4 linked regions of the Homo sapiens genome follow. The protein of the gene in region 3 interacts with the protein of the main gene of each other region in a pairwise test. Each region holds a gene or a part of one and is shown on either strand. Other genes may lie near its edges. The genes, in order: FNDC3B, TSR2, DAPL1 and LSM1.

Region 1 (2,629 bases), on a different chromosome or scaffold from region 3:
TAATTAGCTTTGCAAACTGATGGCATCAAGGTAAATATATTTTTGCCAAAGTTCTGGCCTTCCAAAACTCACCCCCTTATTTAAATGTGTGCTATGACCCACTATGACCACAGCATCTGCATTTTCTAAAAAATTCCATGCAGGTGTTTTGGGGAGAGGTATTTTTTAAGCAATGAAAATTCAACTGAGTACAAAGCCCCCTCTTGGGGGGTTGGGGAAGTCTCTTTTTTGAAACACTTCAGAACTGCTGCTATAAAGAAATTCTCTAATTGGTTGAATTTTTTTTTTAAGTAAATAGTACTTTAGGCCAAAATTTATATGAATATTTGATCTTCTTGAGATTTTCATACTATCATTTAACCACCAGGAAGCTGAAGTGTGTGAAGTACAAAGCTGACAGCACTTTATTTTATTGCTCTCCATTATTTGGTATTCATTATATTCCTTCAGTCAGAAAATTATTACTCTCTATGGCACTGTTTTTTATCACAAATATGTATATGTGATATTGATATATAACTATATATATTGCCATCACACACGAACAATAAAATAAAGTGTTCTATTAACCTGATCTCTTTGCCCTTTTGCTATGTGAGGAGTGAATGAGTGGCCTTCTGATGCTCTGACTCTTCTCTGTATGTCAAACTCATCCCTGGCACAAGAAATTCCAGTCATGTGAAGCAAACTGCCCTTTGTCCTCAAAGAAATTGTTGAAAAAGAAAACTTTTTAAAGAGATTTTTTGCATATTCTCTGCCTTGTTCTTATCAACTTGAAATGTTGGCATTTTCTAACCTTGTTTTGTTGGCTACAATAATTCAGTATTCATGTCAAAATTGAGAAGTGCCCTAATTGAATGTGTTTGAATGTTATCCTTGCACAATTCTTTAAATTGAAAGATAAAATGTTTTACCTCACTGTTGGACATACATTCCAAGCTTTTCAACTCTAGGAGAAAAAGAAAATCATGTTTTCCTGTATTGTAAATTTTAGACTATTTCATATACATTGTATTAAAACTGCCATATCAATTTTAATGTATAGATTTTGCAAATATTATGCTATATGTAATACCTAACTGTATCTGTAGTGTATATGTAATATATTTATGCCCAATAAATGTTTTAATTCTTTCTGACTTAAATAGGGTTTTTCTGCCATGACTAGGATTGCTTTTGTTGTTGTTGTTGTTGTTTCTTTCTTTTTTTTTTTTTTTGAGACGGAGTCTTGCTCTGTCGCCAGGCTGGAGTGCAGTGGCGCGATCTCAGCTCACTGCAACCTCCAGCTCCCAGGTTCAAGTGATTCCCCTGCCTCAGCCTCCCAAGTAGCTGGGGATTACAGGCACTCGCCACCATGCCCGGATAATTTTTTTTTTTTTTTTGAGTTGGAGTCTTGCTCTGTCGCCCAGGCTGGAGTGCAGTGACCCAATCTCGGCTCACTGCAAGCTCCACCTCCCGGGTTCATGCCATTCTCCTGCCTCAGCCTCCCAAGTAGCTGGGACTACAGGTGCCCGCCACCACGCCCGGCTAATTTTTTTAATTTTAGTAGAGTCGGGGTTTCACCATGTTGGCCAAGATGGTCTCGATCTGACCTCGTGATCTGCCCGCCTCGGCCTCCCAAAGTGCTGGGATTACAGGTGTGAGCCCCCGCACCCAGCCTTATTCTTCCCTTTTAAATACTTAAAGCACATTCAGATTAGTTGAAAATTCACGTGTTTTTGGAGGCCAGGCAGGTGGCCTTCTGCAGAGACAGCAGCAGCTCAGCTCTTGCTGACCAAGGCCTTGGAGGACTGTGAGCCACAATCACATATGTCCATGTTTCAAAAGAAGCTAAATATCCAGATTTCCTCCATGGGCCAACTAAAAGGTGATTGTGGACTATACAGGCTGCCAGTTTAATCCTTTATCAGAGTCTCTGTGGATAATGTACCTTGTTGCCTAATACTTTATCTGTCTACCAAAACTCAGTCCAGATCTCCCTCTGTTCACCTGGCACACTGGGTGCTTCCTCTCCCCTGACGAACTCTATAGAGTGTTCATGTCCTTTCCTGCAGGTCTCATTCAACAACAACAACAACAACAGCAATAAAACACAGTGTTCCTGCTATGGCCATGGTTTTGTGATTTTAGATTGTCTTAGTAGGAATTCCCACTATCTCTTTTATTTTTCAGGAAAATGGGTAAAAAAAACTGTCACTTTATTGAACCTCACTTATATGAAGCATGGTAATTATTCTGGGTAAAGATGACAAATTGAGCACATCAAATTTTGAATGCTCCTGACACCACTAAAAGTAAAGGATTTTTTATTTTTTTAAGTCACAACTCAACCCTCAAGACTGGGAAGAAAGAGGAGTTATTGGCACCAGAATTTTGGAAATATGATCAACAAAACTTAATTCTAATTTGGCAGAGGAGAAAATGAGCATCAGTGTTTTTATTCTCAATGCAGGATACCCTAAAGGCTCAAAAATTGACAGCAACATATCCCTTTGAAGTGATAGTGAAGAGAGAGAGGAGGCTAAAATAGTATTGGTTGAAAGCTGTTTAAAATGCAGTTAGATCAATAAAATCCCTCCCCCTTTTTTTTTTCAGCTGGACAAAAATGTCCCTCCTCCCCACCCACCTC
Region 2 (7,765 bases), on a different chromosome or scaffold from region 3:
TCAGCTAAGTAGAAAAGGACAGGGCCCTTGGGTCAAAGACCAGCCAACTTCATCACCCCTGCCCACTGCTCTTCAATATCTACTTGGTGGATCTGCAACTGGGTGGGTAAAGGCACAGTGAGCCTTTTATCTGCTAAAGTGTTCTGCATTCCAGGTTTTAACAATTTTTTAAGAACCACTAAAAATACCTCATTTCCAATCTCTTCCATCCTGCCTTTTATCTGCTAAAGTGTTCTGCATTCCAGGTTTTAACATAATTTTTTAAAGAACCACTAAATATTAATACCTCATTTCCAATCTCTTCCATCCTACCAAGGCCTCTTTCCACAACTCCCAGCCCTACACTCACCCTCTTTCATCTGGACTATTCTAACTAGCCTCCCCTCTATGAGACCTTGAGCAAGCTACTTCTTTCTGAGCCTCAGTTTTCTCATCTGTAAAGTGGGGCTAATGGTGGCCTCCTCAAAGGTCTGTTATGAGGAACCATCCAACACAATGCCTAGCACAGTGAAGATCCATGATCCATGTTAATTTCTATCATGCAAAAGCTGAAGTTTTTGAAGTGAAGAGAACCTTCACAACTGTGGTTCCACTGATAAAAGAAGCCACAGACCAATGGGATAGTTAAGAAGAAATGGACATAGTAATTCCAATGATGAAATCATCATAGCCTTGACACTGACATCCTACTGTGTGACTCTGACTGAGCCACCTTCCTCTCTGGGCTTCAGTTACCTATGGGCCTATGCTCTACTTTTTCTGAATTAGACAGTAACTCAAGAAAGTCTCCCACAAAGCTCCTAGCCCTCTCCCCTCTATGTGCTTTCTCTGGGAGAGCTCATCCACACTCTTGGCTTTCCCTACCACTCAAACTTAATATCCCCCGAATTTATCTCCAACTGAGACTACTCTGTGCCTGGACGTTTCACAGATGCCGCAGATCTTCCATATCTAAAGCCAGACTCATCACCTTACTCTTTAAACCTGCTTCGCATCCTCCAGGGTTCCTCTACTCCGAGAAAAGACACCTAATCCACCCATCAACTCAAACCAGGAACTTGCCTCTTTTTCCCTCCCTGTCTACAGCCAACCAATCTCCAAGGCCCTATTCCACCCCTTCTTTTCCATGCCTGTTGCCACTGTCCTACTTCAGGCCTCATCAGTTTCTAGACAAAAACAGCGTTCTCATCAGTCTTTCCCTCTCCAGGTTATGCTTCATACTGATTATTTCCTGAACTTTCTAGCCAGCAAATCCCATCCTATTTCTCACCCTAGAACCTGCCCACGAATTTTTACCAGCCACTGCAGTGTTTCACAGTTTGCCTTTGAGAAATATCTGTTCTGCTGGGTCTTAAGGGACACTATCCATAGAAAGCTAATGAGAAACAAAAGCAAACAGGTTTTTTAGTGGTTCTTATTCTTACCCAAGCCTTTAATATGTTCATGAGTGTTAAGACTTTTCAGTGGGAGCAGAACAAGAGTTTTTCTTACATAAGGTAACTGGAGAAGCTTCTTCACTGAACATCTAACAGAACTAGTTAGCATGAATTTTGGCAAACACTGGCCTAAATGATAAAATCAAAGGCACATAAGGGCTTCCATGTCTTATGCTTTTCAAGGGGGCTTCCCACACCCCAGCTTCATTCTCTACCACTCCTCCACCCCCCACGCACACACGCCCATACTCCAATACTGAGCTCCCTGCTACTTTCCAAATATAACACATTATACCCTCATGCCACAGAACTTGAGTGTTGCTCTCTCTGCTTCCCCCACCTAGTTAACTCCTTCTCACTAAGACCCAGCCCAATTCACCACCTCCACTAAGAAGCTGTCTCCCCATCCTGTTACCCCATGCACCCTGAGCTCCTCTTTATCAGAAAATCTATCAATGTTGTAACTATTTACGTGTGTGGATCCTCAATGGATAGTATACTTTCTTGAGAGAGATGACTCTGCCTAATGTCATCTCCAAAGCTAGAAATTGAATGAAGATTTTTTTAAAAACCATACTATGCAACAGGCCCTCTACTGGGCCTCTTGTTCTTGTATATCCCTCAAGACGAGCCTACAGTGTAGATCTTTGCTGTCCAAACAGCCACAGGTGGTTACTGAGCACTTGAAATATGGCTAGGCCAAATCGAAATGTGCTAAAACTGTAAAATACCAGATTTTGAAAACTTAATACTAAAAAATGTAAAATATCTCAATGTTTTATACTGACTACATGTTGAAATATTTCATACACACCGAGTTTACTAACATTGATTTCATCTGCTTTTTGCTTTATTAAAGTGGCTACTAAAAAATTTTAAATTATATGTGACTAGCATAATATTTCTACTGTACAGCGCTCTGGTGGATACTTTTATACGCATTTTAGAAACTAGGAAACTGAGTCTCAGGGAGGTAAACTGCCTTGTCCAGAGTAATCCCACGAGTCAGTGGTACAGCCCGTAAAGCACTGGAATCCAGGATTCTGATTCTAAAAGCTGAATTCATTCCACCTCACCTTTAGGTACCAATCCACAACTGCTCGAGAGGAAATGCAGGCTCTGCGGGATGGGGCTCCTCCTCTCCACACCCCCACACAGGCGGGTCGCGGCGCCTCACATTCACTCACCATTGCGCATGAAGTAATCCTCCACTGCACCCCCCAGCCACTTGGCCTTCTCCTGGCTGTGCACACCCCCGAAGCCATTCTCCACAGCGATCTGTAAACACAGGTCCAAGCCCACCAAGTCAGCTTGGGAGCAGACCTGGAGTAGCCTGGAGGCCGCTTACGCCGCCCAGCCAACTCCTCTTATGCCGCCTAGCCAAGCCTCAGGCACCTAGCCCAACCAACTCCTGTTCTGCCCCGGGCCCTAACCTTGACCTTGCCCTGGCCCTGGCCCCACTGACCTGCAAGGCCGGCCAGGCCTCCAGGGCCGCGCAGACCCCAGCCCGGAAAAGAGCTCGCGCATCTTCTGCAGCGCCCGCCATTATCCGGCCCCAGTCCACGTGACGTCCCGGCGGCCCAATCCCTCTGTAGCTCGGCCCAGGCAGAACGAGACGCAAGCCGAGCCTGAGAACACAGGATTCTCTTTTCCGCAGACCTGGCAGCAAGACTAGAGCAAAAGAAAAATCTGTCAGAGCGATCGATGACACCACCAGAGTTACTCACTTAAATCAAAGGACACCAGACCTGAAGGACGTGTGGGGCCATGGTTTCCGGATCCGTGGGTACTGCGGAGGAAATATGTGGGGAACTTATTACAGATACAGATTCCAGGCCCTGGGGCAGAGGACTCAGTGAGTATAGCCTTAAAAATCTGCATTTAAAAAAAGCATCCTAACATCTGTATAGAATACTGCAACCAACAACAGTAAAATACAATCAGCTCTCCCTATGGGGGGCAGTCCACGTCCGTGAATTCAACTAACCTCAGATGGAAAATATTCAGGAAAAAATTGCATCTGCATTGAACATGTGTATACTTTTTTTCTTGACATTATTCTCCTAAACAGTACAGTATAACAGCTATATACATAGCATTTACACTTTATTAGGCATTATAAGTAACCTGGAAATTATTTATTTATCTATTTTTTTGAGACCGAGTGTCACTCTGTGGCCCAGGCTGGAGTGCAGTGGCGCCATCTCGGCTGACTGCAACCTCCGTCTCCTGGTTTCAAGCAATTCTCGTGCCTCAGCCTCCCGAGTACCTGAGATTACAGGTGCCCACCACCACTCCCAGCTAATTTTTGTGTTTTTAGTAGAGACAGGGTTTCGCCATGTTGCCCAGGCTGGTCTCGAACTCCTGGGTTTAATCCACTTGCCTCAGCCTCCCAAATTGCTGGGATTATAGGCGTGAGTCACATCTGGAAATGATTTAAAGTATACAGTAGAATATTCATAGGTTATACGCAAATACTATGCCATTTTATATCAGGGACTTGAGCATCTATGAATTTTGGTATCCTCCGGAGGTCGTGGAACCAGTCTCCCACGGATACCCAGGGATAACTGTACATGTTTTTCTGAAGTACACAAGAACATTCTCCAGAACAGATCATACACTAGGCCATACAGTAGGCCTCCATAGATTTAACAGGATTGAACATACAAAGTATGTTGTCTGACCACAATGGAAAGAAGTTAAAAATCAGTAAAAAGAAACTTACAAAATTCACAAATATATGGAAATTAACACACTCCTAAGCAATAAATGGGTCAAAGAAAAAAATCACAAAGCAAATTAGAAAACACTTTTAAATGAATGAAAACAAAAACATAAAAAAATGCATGAGATGCAGCTAAAGCAAAACTTAGAGGGAAATCTTTAGCTGTAAACATGCATATCTAAAAAGAAGAGCCGGACATGGTGGCTCATGCCTGTAATCATAGCACTTTGGGAGGTTGATGCGGGAGGATGGCTTGAGCTCAGGAGTTCAAGACCAGCCTGGGCAACATAGTGAGACCCCATCTCTAAAAACAATTTTAAAAATTAGGCCAGGTGTGGTGGCTCACGCTTGTAATCACAGCACTTTGGGAGGCCAAGGCAGGCAGATCACTTGAGGTCAGGAGTTCGAGACCAGCCTGGCCAAGATGGTGAAACCCCGTCTCTACTAAAAATACAAAAATTAGCCAGGTCTGGTGGCAAGCACCTGTAATCCCAGCTACTTGGGAGGCTGAGGCAGGAGAATGGCTTGAACCCGGGAGGCGGAGGTTACAGTGAGCCGAGATGGTGCCATTGCACTCCAGCCTGGGAAACAGAGTGAGACTCTGTCTCAAACTAAATAAATAAATAAATTTGAAAACTAGGCCAGGCATGGTGGCTCACACCTATAATTCCCGCACTTTGGGTGGGCAGATCACCTGAGGTCAGGAGTTTGAGACCAGCATGGTCAATATGAACAAACCCTGTCTCTACTAAAAATGCAAAAGTTAGCCAGGCATGGTGACACACACCTGTAATCCCAGCTACTTGGGAGGCTGAAGCACGAGAATCGCTTGAACCCGGTAGGCAGAGGTTGCAGTGAGCTGAGATCACTCCACTGCACTCCAGCCTGGGCGACACAGTGAGACTCTGTCTCAAACAAACAAACGAACAAACAAAATTAGATGGGCATAGTGGCATATGCGTGTAGTACCAGCCACTCAGGAGGCTGAGGTGGGAGGATTGCTTGAGCCTGGGAGCTCAAGGCTGCAGTGAGCCGTGATTGTGCCACTGCACTCCAGCATGGGGGACAGAGCAAGACCCTGTCTCAAAAAAATAAAAAATGAAAGAATGATATCAAATTAATAACCTACACTTCCACTTCACAAAACCAGAAAAAGAAGAGCAAAGTAATCCCAAGGCAAGCATAAGAAAGGAAATAATAAATAATAGAACAGAAATAAATGAAATAGAGAATTGAAAAACAATAGAGAAAAGAAAAAACAGTGAAGCCAAAAGTCAGTTGTTGTTTTTTGTTTGTTTGTTTGTTTGTTTTGAGATGGAGTCTGGTGCTGTCACCCAGGCTGAAGTGCAGTGGTGCAATCTCAGCTCACTACAACCTCTGCCTCCCAGGTTCAAAGGAGTCTCCTGCCTCAGCCTCCAGAGTAGCTGGGATTACAGGCATATGCCACCATGCCCCGTTAATTTTTGTATTTTTAGTAGAGACAGGGTTTCACCATGTTGGCCAGGCTGGTCTTGAACTCCTGACCTCAAGTGAGCTGCCCACCTCAGCCTTCCCAAGTGTTTGGATTACAGGCGTGAGCCACCGGACCTGGGCGGTTATTTTTTTTTCAGAGATGAAGTCTTTTTTTGTTGCCCAGGCTGGAATGCAGTGGCACAAACATTGCTCACTGCAGCCTCAAACTCCTGGGCTCAAAGGATCCTCCTGCCTCTGCCTCCTGATTAGCTGGGACTACAGGAATAGGCCACCATGCCTGGCTAGTGTGTGTGTGTGTGTGTGTGTGTGGTTGTGTGTGTGTGTGTGTGTGTGTGTGTGTGTGTGTGTGTGTGTGTTGGGAGGGGGTGTCTCACTTTGTTGCCCAGGCTGGTCTTGAACTCCTGGTTTCAAGCGATCCACCTGCCTCGCCTCTCAAAATGCTGGGATTACAGGTGTGAGCAAATGCAACTGGCCAAGTCAGTTATTTGAAAAGATCAACAAAATTTACAAACCCTTAGCTAGACTGAGGAAGAAATAAAAGAAAGAAGACTCAAATTACTGAAATCAGGAACGAAAGAGGACGTATAATTACCGACCAGTCAAAAAAGACCACATATTGTATGATACCATTTATATGAAATATACAGAATAGGTAAATCTATAGAGACAGAAAATACATGAATGGTTGCCCAGGGCTTGGATGGGGAAAGAATAGAGTGTGACTTCTAAATGGCTTCAGGGCTACTTTTGGGGGTGTCGAAAATGTTCTAAAAATTAGACGAGGTAATGGTTGCTGTTATGAGCTAAATTGTATCCACCACCCCCCAAATTCATATGTAGAAACCCTAACCCCCAGTACCTCAGAATGTGACTGTATTGGGAGATAGAGCCTTTAAAAAGGTAATTAAGATAAAATGAGGTTGCATGGGTGGGCCCTAATCCGTTATGACTGATGTCCTTATAAAGAAGGGGAGATTAGAACTCGGTGCAATGGCTCAGATCACTTGAGGCCAGGAGTTCGAGACCATCCTGGGCAACAAAGCAAGACCCCCCATCTCTACAAAAAAATTTTTTTTTTAATTAGCTGAGTGTGATGGCTGTAGTCCCAGCTACTCAGGAGACTGAGGAGGGAGGATCACTTGAGTCCAGGAGGTTGAGGCTGCCGTGAGCCATGATTGTACCACTGCACTCCAGCATGAGTGACAGAACAAGCCCTGTCTCAAAAACAAAAAACAACAAAATATAATAATAAGAGGAGATGAGGACACAGGCAAAGAGGGACACCAGAGAGGTGTACACACAGGGACAACTATGTGAACACACAGTGAGAAAGCTAAGGAGAAAGCCAAGGAGCAAATCAGAAGAAACTATACTAAAAGCCATTGAATTGTACACTTTACTTATTTGTTGATTTATTGATGAAAGTATTTCCTTAAAATTAGAAATCTAATTTACAAATTACAAATTTTTAAAAACTGACAAATGTCACAAACATCTTCTAACCCAGAAAAATAAAATATTACTTTGTTGTTTTGTTTTTGTTTTGTAGATGCAAGGTTTCACCATGTTGGCCAGGCTGGTCTCAAACTCCTGACCTCAGGTGAGCCGCCTGCCTCAGCATCCCAAAGTGCTGGGATTACAGGCATGAGCCACCACGCCCTGCCAAAATAAAATATTCTTATTAATTACATGACTCACCTCTCTACTAATTTTTCTACATTTTTTGATATCAAAGAGTTTATAGAACTCTTCATATGACAAGTATTTTATATTTTCTAGAGAGAACACAAAGAATTCAATTGATTTCAATTCAGTTGAGTAAAATTTTTTATTATTAGTATTTTAGAAAAGTTTCAATTTCACAACTCATTATTAGTAATGTACATTTTAAGATTTTTGTCAAACTTGGGAAAATTTCTAGTTTCTTTTACATGTGAGCTGTAAGATTTCAGGTTATTTTAACTTCTCTTGGCACAGCGACAAATCTTAAACATTCTTCAAATAGACCAGGCTCAATAACCAGAGACCTGGAAGTGGCCTGTGCAAGTGTGGGGCCCTGATGCTTAAGATTGATTTGTTCTACGATAAATCTATCTCTGTGCAATGCCCAGGGAGAAAGGAGCACAGG
Region 3 (7,707 bases):
TTGTTTGTTTGTTCTTGTTTTGATACAGGGTCTCACTCTATCCCTCAGGCAGTGGCGAGATCTTGGCTCTCTGCAACCTCTGCCTAGTGATCCTCCTGCCCCAGCCTCCTGAGTACCTGGGGCTACAGGCATGCGCCACCACACCTGGCTAAATTTTTGCATGTTTTGTAGAGATAGGGTTTTGTCACATTGCACAGGCTGGTCTCAAACTCCTAGACTCAAGCAATCCTCCAGCCTTGACCTCCCAATGTACTGGGATTACAGGCATGAGCCACCATGCCCAGCTGCTTATTTTTATAAATTACCAAGTTTCAGGTATTCTGTTGTAAGCAATAGAAAACAAATTAAGACACCACCCCACCACCTAAGAGTCACCACCCTCCCAGTTAGCTTTCTTGCCCCTGATTTCTAACATAGATTTCTCATACTTTCAGAACTTAGCATAAGGTACAGCATGTAACTAATGTTAAGAGAAAAAAGAAAATATAAAAATTAGATGCACCCTGCAAATATACAGGTGCATGAGGAAGGTAATGTCTCCCACATACAAATTAAAAGAAGAAAGTGCAATACTACGATGAAAGTGTTGTATGATTTTAAAATATGATTAATGTTAAAGCATCCTTTCATTTTAAGACAGAAAGCTCTCTGGCAACCTCAACGTCGTGAGAATCCATTTTACTAGGCTTTTTGCATTACAAAGCACAATTTCAAATACTTTGGTCCTAGCATGAACTGCTCTCCTGTTGCAGTTAACTCGACTGATGCCATTTTTAAAGTGAGCTTTATAAGCCCATTTAAAGAGTAATAACATGTTGTCTTCTTTCCATGAGACTTTCACCCTGATGGAAGCTCCAGTATGTCCCCAGAGTAAATCACTTGGGCTCCACTTACCTCACAGTGTACAAAACAGGCCTGGGCTTTTCATGACGAACATAAAGAGAAGGCAAGGGAAGACCCCACCCCACTTTGGGGCTGCCCTGTGCTCCTAAGCACACACAGAGGGAGACAGAGTTGGGACCCTGGGCCTCCTCCAGTGGAAGCAGAAAGAGTGGCAGGGCAGGAAGGCTGTGCTGGGCGGGGCCCAGAGGAGGCCACATTGGCCTCATTTTTGCTTTTGCCACTTACCTTTTACCATCACCCTGTGGATACCACTACTCCCGTTCCCTTAGATCAGAATTTTCCAACTTGGATTTCAAGAGCACAAATTCTTTCCTCCCTTCTTTCTTTCCTTCTTTCTTTCTTTCTTTTTCTTTCTTTCTTTCTTTCTTTCTTTCTTTCTTTCTTTCTTTCTTTCTTTCTTTCTCTCTTTCTTTCTTTCTCTCTTTCTTTCTTTCTCTCTTTCTTTCTTTCTTTCTTTCTTTCTCTCTCTCTCTCTCTCTCTCTCTTCCTTCCTTCCTTCCTTTCTCTCTTTCTTTCTTATTTATTTATTTTGAGATAGGCCTTGCTATGTTGCCGTTGAATTCCTGGGCTCAAGCAATACTCCCAACTCAGCTTCCCCAAGTAGCTGGGACTCCAGGTGCACAACACCCCACCAAGCCAAGAACACAAATTCTAGGGGGTTTTTGTTGGTTGGTTTCTGTTTTTGAGACAGGCTCTCAGTCTATCGCCCAGGCTGGAATGCAGAGGCATGATCTTGGCTCACTGCAGCCTTGACCTCCTGGGCTCAAGCAATCCTCCCACCCCAGCCTCCCAAGTAGCTGGGACCAGAAGCGTGTGCCACCACTCCTGGCTAATTTTTGTATTATATTTTTTTTAGAGATGGGGTTTCTCCATGTTGCCCAGGAGGCTGGTCTCTTAACTTCTGGGCTCAAGCAATAGGCTGGCCTCAGCTGCCCAAAGTGCTGGGATTACAGGCGTGCACCACCAATCCTGGCCCTCTAAGGGTTTTTTTTAGGGCCATGAGAACGAACGTTTTCATGATGAAAAATGCTCTGCGGATGCTGCCTACTAAATCCCCCTGGGGAGGGTCACAATGTACATCTGTGAACTGAAGGCTTTACATGCGAATGATGTGAAAAGAAATCCTGTTTAACATTACTTCATGGATAAATCGAGTATTTGCCCCAAAGAAGCCTTCTCTGCTTGGGCATGCATTATATTCTGGTCCAACCACTCATTCCTCCACATCACTTAGGCTGTCCTAGGTGCAGGCTCTCCTAAGGGGTGGTTGCCCTTTGATTTCCTCCTTGCCTTTTGCACTTTCGCAGCTTATAGATATAGAAGATAACCAATAAAATCTGGTACCAAACAGTCACACATCTAGGCTTTATGCTACCTACCTATGCTGTCCAATACCAGAGTCACATGCCACATGTAGCTATTCCTATTTCTATTAATTAAAACTATTTAATTTTAAATAAATTAAAAATTCAATTTTTCAGTTGCACCAGCCACATTTCAAGTGCTCAAATGAATGTGTGGCTTGTGGCTACAACACTGGTCAGAGCAGATACAAACATTTCCATCTTCTCAGAAATTTCTGAGGAATAATGCCACAATAAACCTTGTCAATCATAGAAGGAATTCTGTTAACCTTCTCATCATGTCCATATCCGCATGAGAATGTGAGATCGCTGAAAGCAAGAATGAGATTTTCTCATCTCTGAACCCCAGCTCCTAGTCCAGGGCCCTGCAGGAAAGGCCACTCACAAAATAACTGCTAGATGATATGAATGTTTCCTCTTTGCTCCCAAAAATGTGCCAACCTTTGTCGCAACACTTTACCATACTTTTCCCTCAAAAAAAACTTTTATTAGTTTTTATTTATTTAAAAAGTAATACAGAATACTGAAAGAAGATTTAAAAATCCACATGTAATACTCCCACCTACAGAATGCCACTCTTAACATTTTGGAGTATTTACATTCATTTATTTACAAACAGATTTTTTGTCATTTGTTGAGGCATATTTTGCATATGGTAAAATTCACCCTTTTAAGGTGATGTGTGTATGACGTATGATGAATGTAACAACCACTACAATCAAGATACAAATTATTTCCATCACCCTCAAAAAGTCACCTCCTCACCTTTGTAATTAAGCCACTCTCCCCAACCGCTCTCCAGCAATCACTGATCCAATTTCTGTTCCTAGGGTTTCAACTGTTCAAGAATGTCATGTACATGGAATTATATAGGAAGTAGCTTTTTTTAGTCTGGGTTCTTCCATTTAACGTGTTGCTTTTGAGATTCATCCATGTTTCCCTTTTTATTGCTGAGTTATATTCTATGATATAGATACACCACAATCTGTTTACCCATTCTACAGTTGAACTTCGGAGTTGTTTCTAACTTTTGGCAATCCTGATAGAGCTGTTATAAACATTTGCACATAGGGTTTTGTGTGTACATATGTTTTCATCACTCTTGGGAGAATTCCTAGCAATTGGATTGTTAGTCATATATAGTAAGTGTATGTTGAATTTTATAAGAAACTGTCAAACTGACTTCCAGAACACCTTTGCTTTTTTGCGTTTCCCCCAGCAATGTATGAGAGTTTCAGTTGCTCTGCGTCTTCACCAGCATTTTGTATTTTCCTTTTTTTTCTTGTCTTGAGCCATCCTAATACATATGTAGTGGTATTTTATTGTGGCTTTAATTTGCATTTCCCTAATGACTAATGATGTCGAGCATCTTTTTGTGTGATTATGTGTTGTCAATATCCTTACTTTGTAATGTTTTATTTGAATCTTTTGCCCATTTTTAATTGGGTTGTCTGCTTTCTTATTATTGAGTTGTAAGAATTCTTTATACATTCTAAATGTCGGTACTTCATCAGAAATGCATTTTACAGATATTTTCTCCCAGTTTGTAGCTTGTTTTTATTTTCTTAACAGGGTTTTTCGAAGAGCAGACAACTGCTCTTCAAGTTGTTTTTTAACTGTACTGAAGAACAAAGAAATTTTTATAAATATCTGCCACATGCTAAACTTTTATTGGCGCTGGAATTACAATAATGGCTAAGCTTAAAGTTGTATTTTTCCTTTTTAGCAAAATTGGCATTGATTGGTTTCTTGTCTACTTTTTCACTATCTTATCGTTAATATTTCTACATCATTAAATATTATTTGAAAACATGATTGTAAGGTATACTCTCACAGTGATTTCTTGATTCATCTTAACTATCCCTCTGTATTTGGAGATGTTTATCTTGATTCCCATCAATATTTTAAAAAGAAAAGAAGCATATGATTCCCATCCTTGCGCAGAAATCTCTGTATACATTTCCAATTATTTTCTTAGTATAAATGCTTATAATTGCAAAAACTGGGACAGAGGCACAGGACTTTGCTCTATACCTGTCTCTTTAGAAAGACTACAGATGTCCTGAAGCAAAGAGCTTGTCTTGGCCCCCTTGTCATGCCAGAATATGACAAAAGCCTGTTACATTGCAGGTGCACTATACACACTTGAGGGATCAACGGTTGGAGAGAAAAAGAATTCCACTGAACTCCATCCTCTCCCTTTCCTCCTGTGGAAAAAAAAGAAAGAAAAGAATATCCTGTCTCCTGCAGACATCTACCTTGCCTTCCCAGATGAAGGGAAGAAGAAAGTCTTCTTCTAAGAGAAAACTTGCCAAGGAGATGCAGGTTTCCCAGAGAGCTGGATGACAAGCCCTGTTGCTGCTCAGCAATGCCCTTAAGGGGCCCTGCCCCCTGCCTTTATAAAGCCGGTGCGGTGGTGGGGCAGCCACAGCTGGCATTCAGCCTCCAGAGCACCAGCACTGGCACTGGCACTGGCACACGCTATGGCAAATGAAGTGCAAGACCTGCTCTCCCCTCGGAAAGGGGGACATCCTCCTGCAGGTAGGCTGCCACCTGCCCTCAGTCCTGCAGGCTGTTGCTGCTCCCCTCTTCCACCAATGCCTTCCATGGAGCACCCCGACAGACGGAAGCTTCTCTGTCTACCCAGTATGACTTTAACTCCATGCAGCCTGACTTCCTCTTATGTCTTTGATCCTTCTTAGCTTGTATGTAAATCCACCCGGGGATTTGTCAGACCCCCAGTGAGTTAAAACCTAATTACCTACGGCAGTGTATGGATTTGGGGCTTGTGGAAAGGCATAGGTAGAGAGGTTGCACCTTTCCTCCCTCGAGGCAGCATTCCTTTCACGGGGCCCTGGCTGTAGATTAGCAGTGACACATCTACACCAGGAAGATGATTTGCTACCATGGAAACCTTTCTCTTTAGAGGTTCCAGCTGTAAGACTCAGTCTCCCCAAGATGCCTGTGCATCATGTGACTTCCTACCCAGGCAAAGCAGCTTCTGCACAGAGGACAACAATCACATTTCTTTCTCCCTCCTCAGGCTTTGGGGATGTATTTACCTGTCAACAAGCTGAGAAGTACTTTTAAATAAAGACACAGGACTTGAGGAGGCTGACTGGAAAAAGTAGCTGTCAAGGTGTTTGCAAAGCATCCATAGTTGTCTTTTTTTTTAATTTATGCTATCTATATTGACTCTCTGGAATATGGAAATTAGTTTTATTGTACTTAACCATATGTTCATATAGATTGGCTGAGGTGTACAGGCCTATTTTTAGTCAGTTTTATATTCTTCCAACTGCCTTCCTTCTTTTTTACTGAAGAAAGAACTCAAAAGCTTGACTGCTTTGTTCTTGCCTTTCTCCATTTACAAAAACATATTTACTGTCTAATTCTCTGGCACCTCTAGGCCAAGGTTATTTCAATAATCTTTGCTGCAGAGGGTGATGGCGGGTATTGTCTTCACAGAGAGTCAAAATGTAACATTGTTTTGGTGGCTTTCCGGCGGGTAGCCTGGCCAAAAAGAGTCCAGATTTTACTACTCATTCTGAGTTTCCAGCTCTAGACATCTTGGTCTGATCTCCTCTGGTAGATTACTGATGTTTTATATTTGTAATCAAATTTAGCAATATTTAACATTACCTATATTTAAAGTTAATTATGCTAGCTAATAGTCAGGAAGTATATATGCAAATCATTGGAAGACAGGCTCCTTACATAGACAAAGACAAAAGAAAAAAGAACTCCATTCTCATTATGTTGTTTCCACTCCAACCCTTCATAAAATGGCTAAGATGAAACCTGTTTTGCTAAACTACATTTATGCACAAAGAACACAGACATAAACTTAACCAAATGAAAGTTCGAATGAAACCACCGGGAACTTTCTGTCCCCACCACTAATGATTGCTAATTACTCTGTGTACATAGCACACCATGACTCCATCAAGCATGTCACAATGCCTCTGGCATGACAATTAATTATTATGAACTGTGACACTACAGATAAGAGGTTTTGGATAATTAGAATGGAGATGAAGGCAGACTTTTGCCTCCCCACTGAGCACAAGGGAACAAAGAAGTGTCATCCTTCAGCCTGTCTTGCCACTAATTTTAAGTCTGAATCTGTTTGTGGTGGTGCAAAATTTTATTTATGGAACAAAAACAAGTGCCAAAATTCTGTTAATTTTTCACTTGATTTTTATAAGCAAAATACAGATCCCTAAAAGTGGGAAGAAGATACGATTCGGTGGGGAGGGTGGGACATACATAGCCTTTGGAATCAGACAGACCTGGGTTTGAACCTCAACTTCATTTCACATCTTCGAGCCTGAGTTTCCTCATCTCTGAAACAGGATGCAATAAATAACATCTATCTAGTAAGTTTGTTGTAATGATTAAAAGAGATCACCTCTGTAAAGTATCTGGCACCTGAATGTTAGCCCCCTTAAAATGCAGGCCCGGTAGAACACATCACTATCAAAAGAAATTATCCTCCCCAATTTCAAGACATCCTGATGCTGGAGCGGCATTAGACACTACTGCAGTAGTTGGAACAGAAAGAAACTGCAATGGAAAAAATATGTGCCTATCCCATCACAGTTAAAAATGAAATCACTCAGCTGGGTACAGTAGCTCACGCCTGTAATCCCAGCACTTTGGGAGGCCGAGGTGGGTGGATCACCTGAGGTCAGGAGTTCAAGACCAGCCTGGCCAACATGGTGAAACTCCATCTCTATTAAAAATACAAAAATTAGCCGGGCGTGGGGCATGTGCCTGTAATCCCAGCTACTTGGGAGGCTGAGGCAGAAGAATCGCTTGAACCCAGGAGGCAGAGATTGCGGTGAGCAGAGATCACGCCACTGCACTCCAGCCTGGGCAACAAGAGTGAGACCCCGTCTGAAAAAAAAAAAAATCACTTAGAAGTCAGCCTGCTGCATCTCTTTCCTACCTATCTATGGAGCAGTCAATGGTTTCACTTTAATGTATATTAATATAATATATTGCATCTCTGATAGCCCTAGTTATACATTTATGCTGTGAAATGAGACTACATAAAACACAAGGTGGCCTGGGCTCCAGTAAGAAGAACTTGGAATTTTCTGCTTTTTTGATTTGTCTCACCCTCACTTTCAGAAGAACCCCATTATATGAACAGCAGCACCAAAAATGTGTGAGTAGAAGTTGACCCCAGGAAGCCAGATATATGATGAATAGAAAGAAGAGCAGTGGTTCATGACTTTTTCTATATTTCCTGCACTTTTTAATTGGGTCTAAGCCAAATGAATCAGAGCCATTAGAGGTGTTGCCACTGAATCCCTAAAGAGAATATGTTTTCTGACTCATTAAAGAGAGAAGGAAGTTGGAGGGGGAGTATGACCAATTGTAAAACTAATGCAGAAAATGGGGGACAACCATAAACTGCATATGGACCACGGTC
Region 4 (7,037 bases), on a different chromosome or scaffold from region 3:
ATGAAGTCAAATCCAGATGCAGCCTGCGCCCAGTACTTTTCTGACTTTATCTACTGTTCTTTCCCTTCACACCCTCAGCTTTTAGCTAAACATGGATGTATAGCCCTTTTTTCCTCCTCTTTAATTTACAGATTTCCTTCTCCCCCCCCGCCCCCTTCCTATCACTCTTCTTGTGCCCTAAAATTATCTACCTTTTAAGGTCCAACTCTGATACCTCCTTCAGAAATACAGTTTCTCTCTCTGTAGTCTCATATAATTAAGATTTGCTTTCTGTGGTACTTATTTATAGCGCAAGGAAGAGTATAAATTCCTTCAGGGCAGAGTCACTGTGTTTTTCCTCTGTTCTGCATCTAGAAAGTACTTTAGGCATGGAATGAAAGAAATTTTGCTGGGTGCGCTAGTAACTGGCTTATTTTCATTCTTCAGTGTCAGCTCAAAGTCACCTCTTCAGAGAGGCTTTCCCTTGCCACCCTTCCTTCTGTAACCACTTCTCTCCCTTCATCATACTGCCTTGCTAGTTTATTATTCCATTGTCCTAATCACAATAGGTTATTTTCTTATTTATTTGTCCTCCTCCAACATGAATATAAATTCATAAGGTTGGTGACTTTCTAAGTCTCATTCTCTACTGTATGTCTAGACCCCAGAACAGCACATGCCCCCTCAGTAAACATTGAATTTCTGCTCTAGCTTATTATTAGTCTTCATTTTAAATGCCTGAAGCATTGTGTTTTTATTTAAAGCCTTCTATGGTTACAAACAAAATGTGAGATAGAAGCTCATCTTTTGAGGACAAAATAATTCTACAAATAAGATAATAGTCATCTAGATTAAATTTGTCAATTTACAGATATAAAAACTGACATGACATGAGATGGTTTAAGTGTCAAACATAAGGGTCTTTGGCTAGGCGCCATGGTTCACGCCTGTAATCCCAGCACTTTGGGAGGTGGAGGTGGATGGATCATCTGAAGTCAGGAGTTTGAGACCAGCCTAGCTAACATGGTGATACACCATCTCTACTAAAAATATGAAAATTAGCCAGGCATGGTGGCAAACTCCTGTAGTCCCAGCTACTAAGGAGGCCGATGCAGGAGGATCGCTTGAACCTGGGAGGCAGAGGTTGTAGTAAGCCGAGATTGTGCCACTGCACTGCAGCCTGGGTGACAGAGTGAGACTCTGTCTCAAAAAAAAAAAAAAAGAAAAAAGGAAAAAAAAAAAACCAACATAAGGGTCTAGAGCCAGCTAGTCAGGCTTCCTGGTGCCACGCCCTGTCCTTTTCCCACTCTGCCACACTGCTCTGATTCTTTTCACTACTGATGTTATCTAAATCCGCGTTGCTGTGCTGCTTTTTTCAGTTTTCCAATGAACTTGAACTTCACATTAAATGCATTGGCCGAGGAAGTGGTACAGCTTAAACTGTTAATTATTATCCTAAATACTCGCTGAACTTGTCAGTTTTCATTTAAAAGATTTTTTCCTCTCTCCCCAGAAAAGCACTTGGTTCTGCTTCGAGATGGAAGGACACTTATAGGCTTTTTAAGAAGCATTGATCAATTTGGTATGTATTAATTTATGGACATCTCTTATACTCTGGATAATAACAGCAGCCCATTGCATTTTTTGTTATTTAATATTGAAATTTATCTGCAACTTTTTCACGTGTGTGACCTAGTAGGACTGATTTTAGTGAGTACATCATTGTTTTCTATACATTCAGATTAGGTGGTTCAAAGCTTATATATATTTCCAAGCTCGTTTCTAAAACTGGCTTTCAGTAGAATCCCCAGTAGGGGGAGCCAAATGATAGAAATAAACTCAGTCCACCGAAGAGGCTTGTTTTGTTTTGTTTTGTTTTTTGTTTAGACGCGCTCTCGGTCACCCAGGCTGGAGTGCAGTGGCACAATCTTGGCTCACTGCAACCTCCGCCTCTTGGGTTCAAGTGATTCTTGTGCCTCAGCCTCCCAAGTAGCTGAGATTATAGGCTCCAGCCACCACCCCCAGCTAATTTTTGTATTTTTAGTAGAGACGGGGTTTCGCCATGTTGGCCAGGCTGGTTTCAAACTCCTGACCTTAGGTGATCCACCCACCCAGCTGAGCTGGGCAGTTGTTCTGCTCCTCATGGTTTTAGGACAGTCCCTTGGTGTCTAGAAGGTGAGTCAGCTGGTTTGAAGGAGCTTCACTCACATGTCTGGTGCATCAGTGGGGACAGCTGGAAGGCTGGTCTTAGCTCCCATAGTGCTGAGATTATAGGCGCGAGCCATTGTGCCCGGCCCAAGGCTGCTTATTTCTACATTGGCAGGGTAAAATGACTTCAAAGCAGTTCCGGAAGTGAAGGTAATCCCTCCCTAGCCAATGAAAATTGGGTAGAAGGCATTTCCTTTATTTTAAGGACCCCAACATTAAGCTTAATACTTTACATATAGGGATACATTGGAATAAGAGGCCTCTGTCTTTGTTTCGCATCCTGCATTTTTCTTAAGTTAAAAGATTATGTTTCCTTCTGTTTCAAGGAACTTCATGTTCATGCTAACATTTATTGGATATCTGCGAAATCACTGGATTTGAGCATGAGGAAGAAACGTAATTAAAACACTTAAAAGGATTATGGAAGATATGAACATAGATTTCTCCTTTACTTCAAATAGGACAAGTAGTACTAATTGAAAGAGGAAAAATAATTATTGTTAACAAATTGGAGTCCTGATTCTTAAGTCAGATTCATCAGAGTACTTTGAGGGAAGGGTAGTGGCTATTAAGTTGACTTTTAGATTACAAATATAGTTATCTGTCAAGGTGAAAAAATAGGTTTTTGCTGTATCATAACCCATGGATACCTGCGTTGGGTCAAATGAATCCTAATTACTAAAAGAAAGTTGAATCTTCAGCAGATCATCACATACACACCCACACAAAAAGAAAAGCTGTTTCTTTCCAGAAAACAAAAGTTTTGATCTCTGTGGTTGTTTAGGCCCAAGTTTTCCAAGTTCCTTATTCATTTATATTTTCCTATGGTTTTTTTTGGTATTAGCAATTAACTGATAAAGGAATTTATTTCTCTTATTTCTGCTGTCATTCATGTATTAGCCCAACATAATCCCAGACATCTCCTAACTGGTACGTCTTACTCAATGAAATAGGAGAAGATTATTTGAAATTTTAGCCTTCCCCAGAATTAGAAAGCTTGGGGGCCCGGCACTGTGGCTCACGCCTGTAATCCCAGCACTTTGGAAGGCCGAGGTGGGCGGATCACAAGGCCAGGAGTTCAAGACCAGCCTGGCCAATGTGGTGATCCCTGTCTCTGCTAAAAATACAGAATTAGCCGGGAGTGGTGGCAGGCACCTGTAGTCCCAGCTACTCCGGAATCTGAGGCAGGAGAATTGCTTGAACCAGTAGGCAGAGGTTGCAGTGAGCTGAGATGGCGCCACTGCAGTCCAGCCTGGGTGACAGAGCGAGACTCGGTCTCAAAAAATAAATAAATAAAAATAATTAGAAAGCTTGGAAATCATGTTTACCTAAATCTTTTCAAAATAACTGATTATTGAGTTATGGGCCTTTACCCAGTAGTTTAAACTAAATATCTTTGGTTTTTCCCTATACACTTACAGCAAACTTAGTGCTACATCAGACTGTGGAGCGTATTCATGTGGGCAAAAAATACGGTGATATTCCTCGAGGGATTTTTGTGGTCAGAGGAGAAAATGTGGTCCTACTAGGAGAAATAGTAAGTGAAAACTATTAAGCTGCTGTAGATCTTCATATTCATGCTAGTTAGACTTCTTTTTTTGTCTTTTCAAAAGAGAATAAAAATATTCTCCACATTTATCTGGCTTCTCCTAGGCAACTACCAAATTAATTTAGGGAAGCTACAGAGAATACTTTGTTTCAGTGCCTTAACAAATGTGTTCATTAATATATTTGTTTAATAGCAGAAAATTGACAAAGCTTGATTTATATATGCTGGGGAAGGTGTGTCTTACATACGTTGGAATATTTTGCAGTCATTTAAACAATTGGTTACAAGTGGTTTTTCATGGCATAAAGCTAATGCACAGTATTTCAGGGAAGTACATATTGCCTGTACAGTACAATGTGATATCCATATTAGTAAAGGGGGAAAGGGAAAGAGTAGCTATAGGAAAAGCTTTTCCGTTACCTATCCCGAGAATGGAGTTCAGTCTTACTTGGATCCTTAGCTCACAGCCAGGGAGAGGGTATTTTGGTATCTGTGCCAGAAAGACCAGCTGGCAGGTGAAAGGTTAAATCAGATTTTCTGAGGTATTGTTGCTGTAGGTCTTCGTGTGTGCAGACATACACACACACACCCCTACTAGAAGTACTCAGATTTTTTTTTAAAGTATCTTATTTAAAACCTTTGATTTCATCTTGTTATTTCTGATTATTGGGTTTGCAAGGAAAATAAAAATCTCTTCAAGAGTAGTTGAAATTAAGGGTTGAGCCAGCACTGTCTTCTTTTTTCTTACCAAAAACTTTGGTGTTTGCTTAATTTTTAAAGTTTTTAATACTGTTTTCTAAATACCTAGCCATGTCTTAAATCAGTTTGCAGAAATCTTTAGAGTGGTTTGGTTTGTAGCCATTTTTAACAGCCATTTGAGAAAGCAAGGAGATAATTCTGCTAGGGTTGGGTTGGTTCAGAGACCTCATATTGGAAATAGCTAGAAATGACTAATCCAGACTATCAATACTGCCCAAGTGAAATATATGAAGTATATGAAATATATGAATATATGAAATATATGCTGTGAAATATATGAAATAGCTTTTTCTTACTTATAAAATATTTATAAGTAATACTTATAAAAATTTTTCTTATAAAATATTTTTGTAGTTTGTACTTTTAGTTCAGTGTATCATTTCTTGCATGTTTAAGCAGCAGAAATTGTTTTTTGTTTTTTGGGTTTTTTTTTTTTTTTGGGACAGAGTTTTGCTCCTGTTGCCCAGGCTGGAGTGCAATGGCATGATCTCAGCTCACTGCAACTTCCGCCTCCCAGGTTCAAGTGATTCTCCTGCCTCAGCCTCCCGAGTAGCTGGGATTACAGGTGCCCGCAACCAAGCCCAGCTAATTTTTGTATTTTTAGTAGAGACGGGGTTTCACTATGTTGGCCAGGCTGGTCTCGAACTCCTGACCTCAGGCGATCTACCCGCCTCGGCCTCCCAGTGTGCTGGGATTACAGGCATGAGCCACCGCGCCCAGCCAAGCAGCAGAAATTGTTATCTTCTTGTGTCGCATAAAGGCTGAAACAAGGCCAGGTGCGGTGCCTCACGCCTGTAATCCCAGCACTTCGGGAGGCTGAGGCGGGCGGATCACAAGGTCAGGAGATCGAGACCATCCTGGCTAACACAGTGAAACCCCATCCCTATTAAAATACAAAAAAGTTAGCCGGGTGTGGTGGCGGGCGCCTGTAGTCCCAGCTACTTGGGAGGCTGAGGTAGGAGAATGGCATGAACCCAGGAGGCGGAGCTTGCAGTGAGTCGAGATCGTGCCAGTGCACTCCAGCCTGGGCGACAGAGCAAGATTCCGTCTCAAAAAAAAAAAAAAGTCTGAAAGCACCTAGTACCATGGTACCCATGGGGAGACACTACATGACTGTAAAGTAGTCTGCCAGTATTTTTTTTCTTCCAGAGATGGGGTCTCACTATGTTGCCCAGGCTAGATTCAAACTCCTAGGCTTAGGCAATCCTCCTGTCTCAGCCTCCCAAGTAGCCGGGACTATAGGTACATGCCACTGTGCTTGATACTGCCAGTATATAGGGGAGCTGACCCATCTCTGCATGGTGGGGTTATAGATGATTTTTAAAAATACTTTTCTGAATTTAATTTTGAAGAGGCAACGTATCAGAGGAAAAAACTTAAGTTAAAATACTGGGGTGGGTGCAGTGGCTCACGTCTGTAATCCCAGTACTTTGGGAGGCCGAGGCAGGCAGATCGCTTAAGCTGCAAGAGACCAGCCTGGGCAACATGGCCAAACCCTGTCTTTACAAAAAAATACAAAAATTAGCCAGGGGTGATGGTGCACATCACCAGTCCCAGCTACTTGGGAGGCTGAGGTGGGAGATTCACCTGAGCTCAGGGAGGTCGAGGCTACAGTGAGCCATGATTGTACCACTGCACTCCAACCTGGGTAACAGAGCAAGACCCTTTCTCAAGAAAATATTCACAGATATGCTTCTGTTTTATAGTAGTAAACATAGCAGACATGCTTTTTATACTGGTTACATTGGCACAAAGTTACATCTAAGTAGATGTGTGTGTTTGTGCAGAGAAAGAGGTGAACGTGTTTGTTCTTGAAGTTTAATTGTTTCCTTGGATCCCTTTTGTGAGGAAAAGTTCCCTTTTTTAAAAAAATATGTTATGGTTTGGATGCTGCAGAAGTTTTACAGGGGTACCACTACAGAAACTTGGTTCCAGGAATGCCTGCATTGTTATGTGAATCAGCAATCAGGAGAAATTATGTACCAACCCCAGAGGAATTCATACATAGAAATCAGTTTCTGTAAACACTATATTGGTTAAGAAATCCCTGAATTCTGCCTCAAGGACGATGATGATGACACAGCATTAAGTAATAAGACTGTTGGGAAGAAGCAGCAACAGCAGCATGAATTGCTTAGCAAGTCACATACTGAAAAGCCCAAGAGGCAGTGCATTAGGCCGAGAACACTGTGCTCTCTTTAGCTGCTACTCATGGGTTGGGAGGGCAGGTGGTAATATATACTTTGCTGGGTGCTGTTAACTTTGGACCTAGAGCAGGGCTTGCTTATGTAATTTGTGTGGCTTTCATTGTAACTTCTGTGGTGAGAGTCCTCTCTGACTGATAATGCCACTGCCTGTGAGTTCTGAGACCTTGGCAGCATGTGGTAATAGTATGCAGGGCAGAGCATCTGGAGAAGTGTGTCAGTACCGTCCCAAACTTTTATCATTGAAAGTCATAGAGGAGGGTAAGAAACAGGAATACTTTGTATAGGCTTTCCATCTTACAAAAACACCAAATAATACCTGTACATTCATTTTAAGG

Evidence for each region.
Region 1: the proteins of DAPL1 (region 3) and FNDC3B interact in binary tests that used the Homo sapiens proteins (3 or more experiments, as listed by UniProt).
Region 2: the proteins of DAPL1 (region 3) and TSR2 interact in binary tests that used the Homo sapiens proteins (3 or more experiments, as listed by UniProt).
Region 4: the proteins of DAPL1 (region 3) and LSM1 interact in binary tests that used the Homo sapiens proteins (3 or more experiments, as listed by UniProt).

The regions. Positions count from the first base shown.
Region 1 is NC_000003.12:172,399,559-172,402,187, forward strand, and holds the end of FNDC3B (fibronectin type III domain-containing protein 3B), read left to right. Parts: 3' UTR 1-2,111; downstream 2,112-2,629. UniProt on the Homo sapiens protein: May be a positive regulator of adipogenesis.
Region 2 is NC_000023.11:54,435,639-54,443,403, reverse strand, and holds the start of TSR2 (pre-rRNA-processing protein TSR2 homolog), read right to left. Parts: upstream 3,001-7,765; 5' UTR 2,983-3,000; coding exon 2,902-2,982; intron 2,715-2,901; coding exon 2,624-2,714; exon of another isoform or gene 2,513-2,623; intron 5-2,512; coding exon 1-4. UniProt on the Homo sapiens protein: May be involved in 20S pre-rRNA processing.
Region 3 is NC_000002.12:158,790,623-158,798,329, forward strand, and holds the start of DAPL1 (death-associated protein-like 1), read left to right. Parts: upstream 1-4,694; 5' UTR 4,695-4,750; coding exon 4,751-4,808; intron 4,809-7,707. UniProt on the Homo sapiens protein: May play a role in the early stages of epithelial differentiation or in apoptosis.
Region 4 is NC_000008.11:38,166,489-38,173,525, reverse strand, and holds part of LSM1 (U6 snRNA-associated Sm-like protein LSm1), read left to right. Parts: intron 1-1,492; coding exon 1,493-1,561; intron 1,562-3,608; coding exon 3,609-3,724; intron 3,725-7,037. UniProt on the Homo sapiens protein: Plays a role in the degradation of histone mRNAs, the only eukaryotic mRNAs that are not polyadenylated. Probably also part of an LSm subunits-containing complex involved in the general process of mRNA degradation.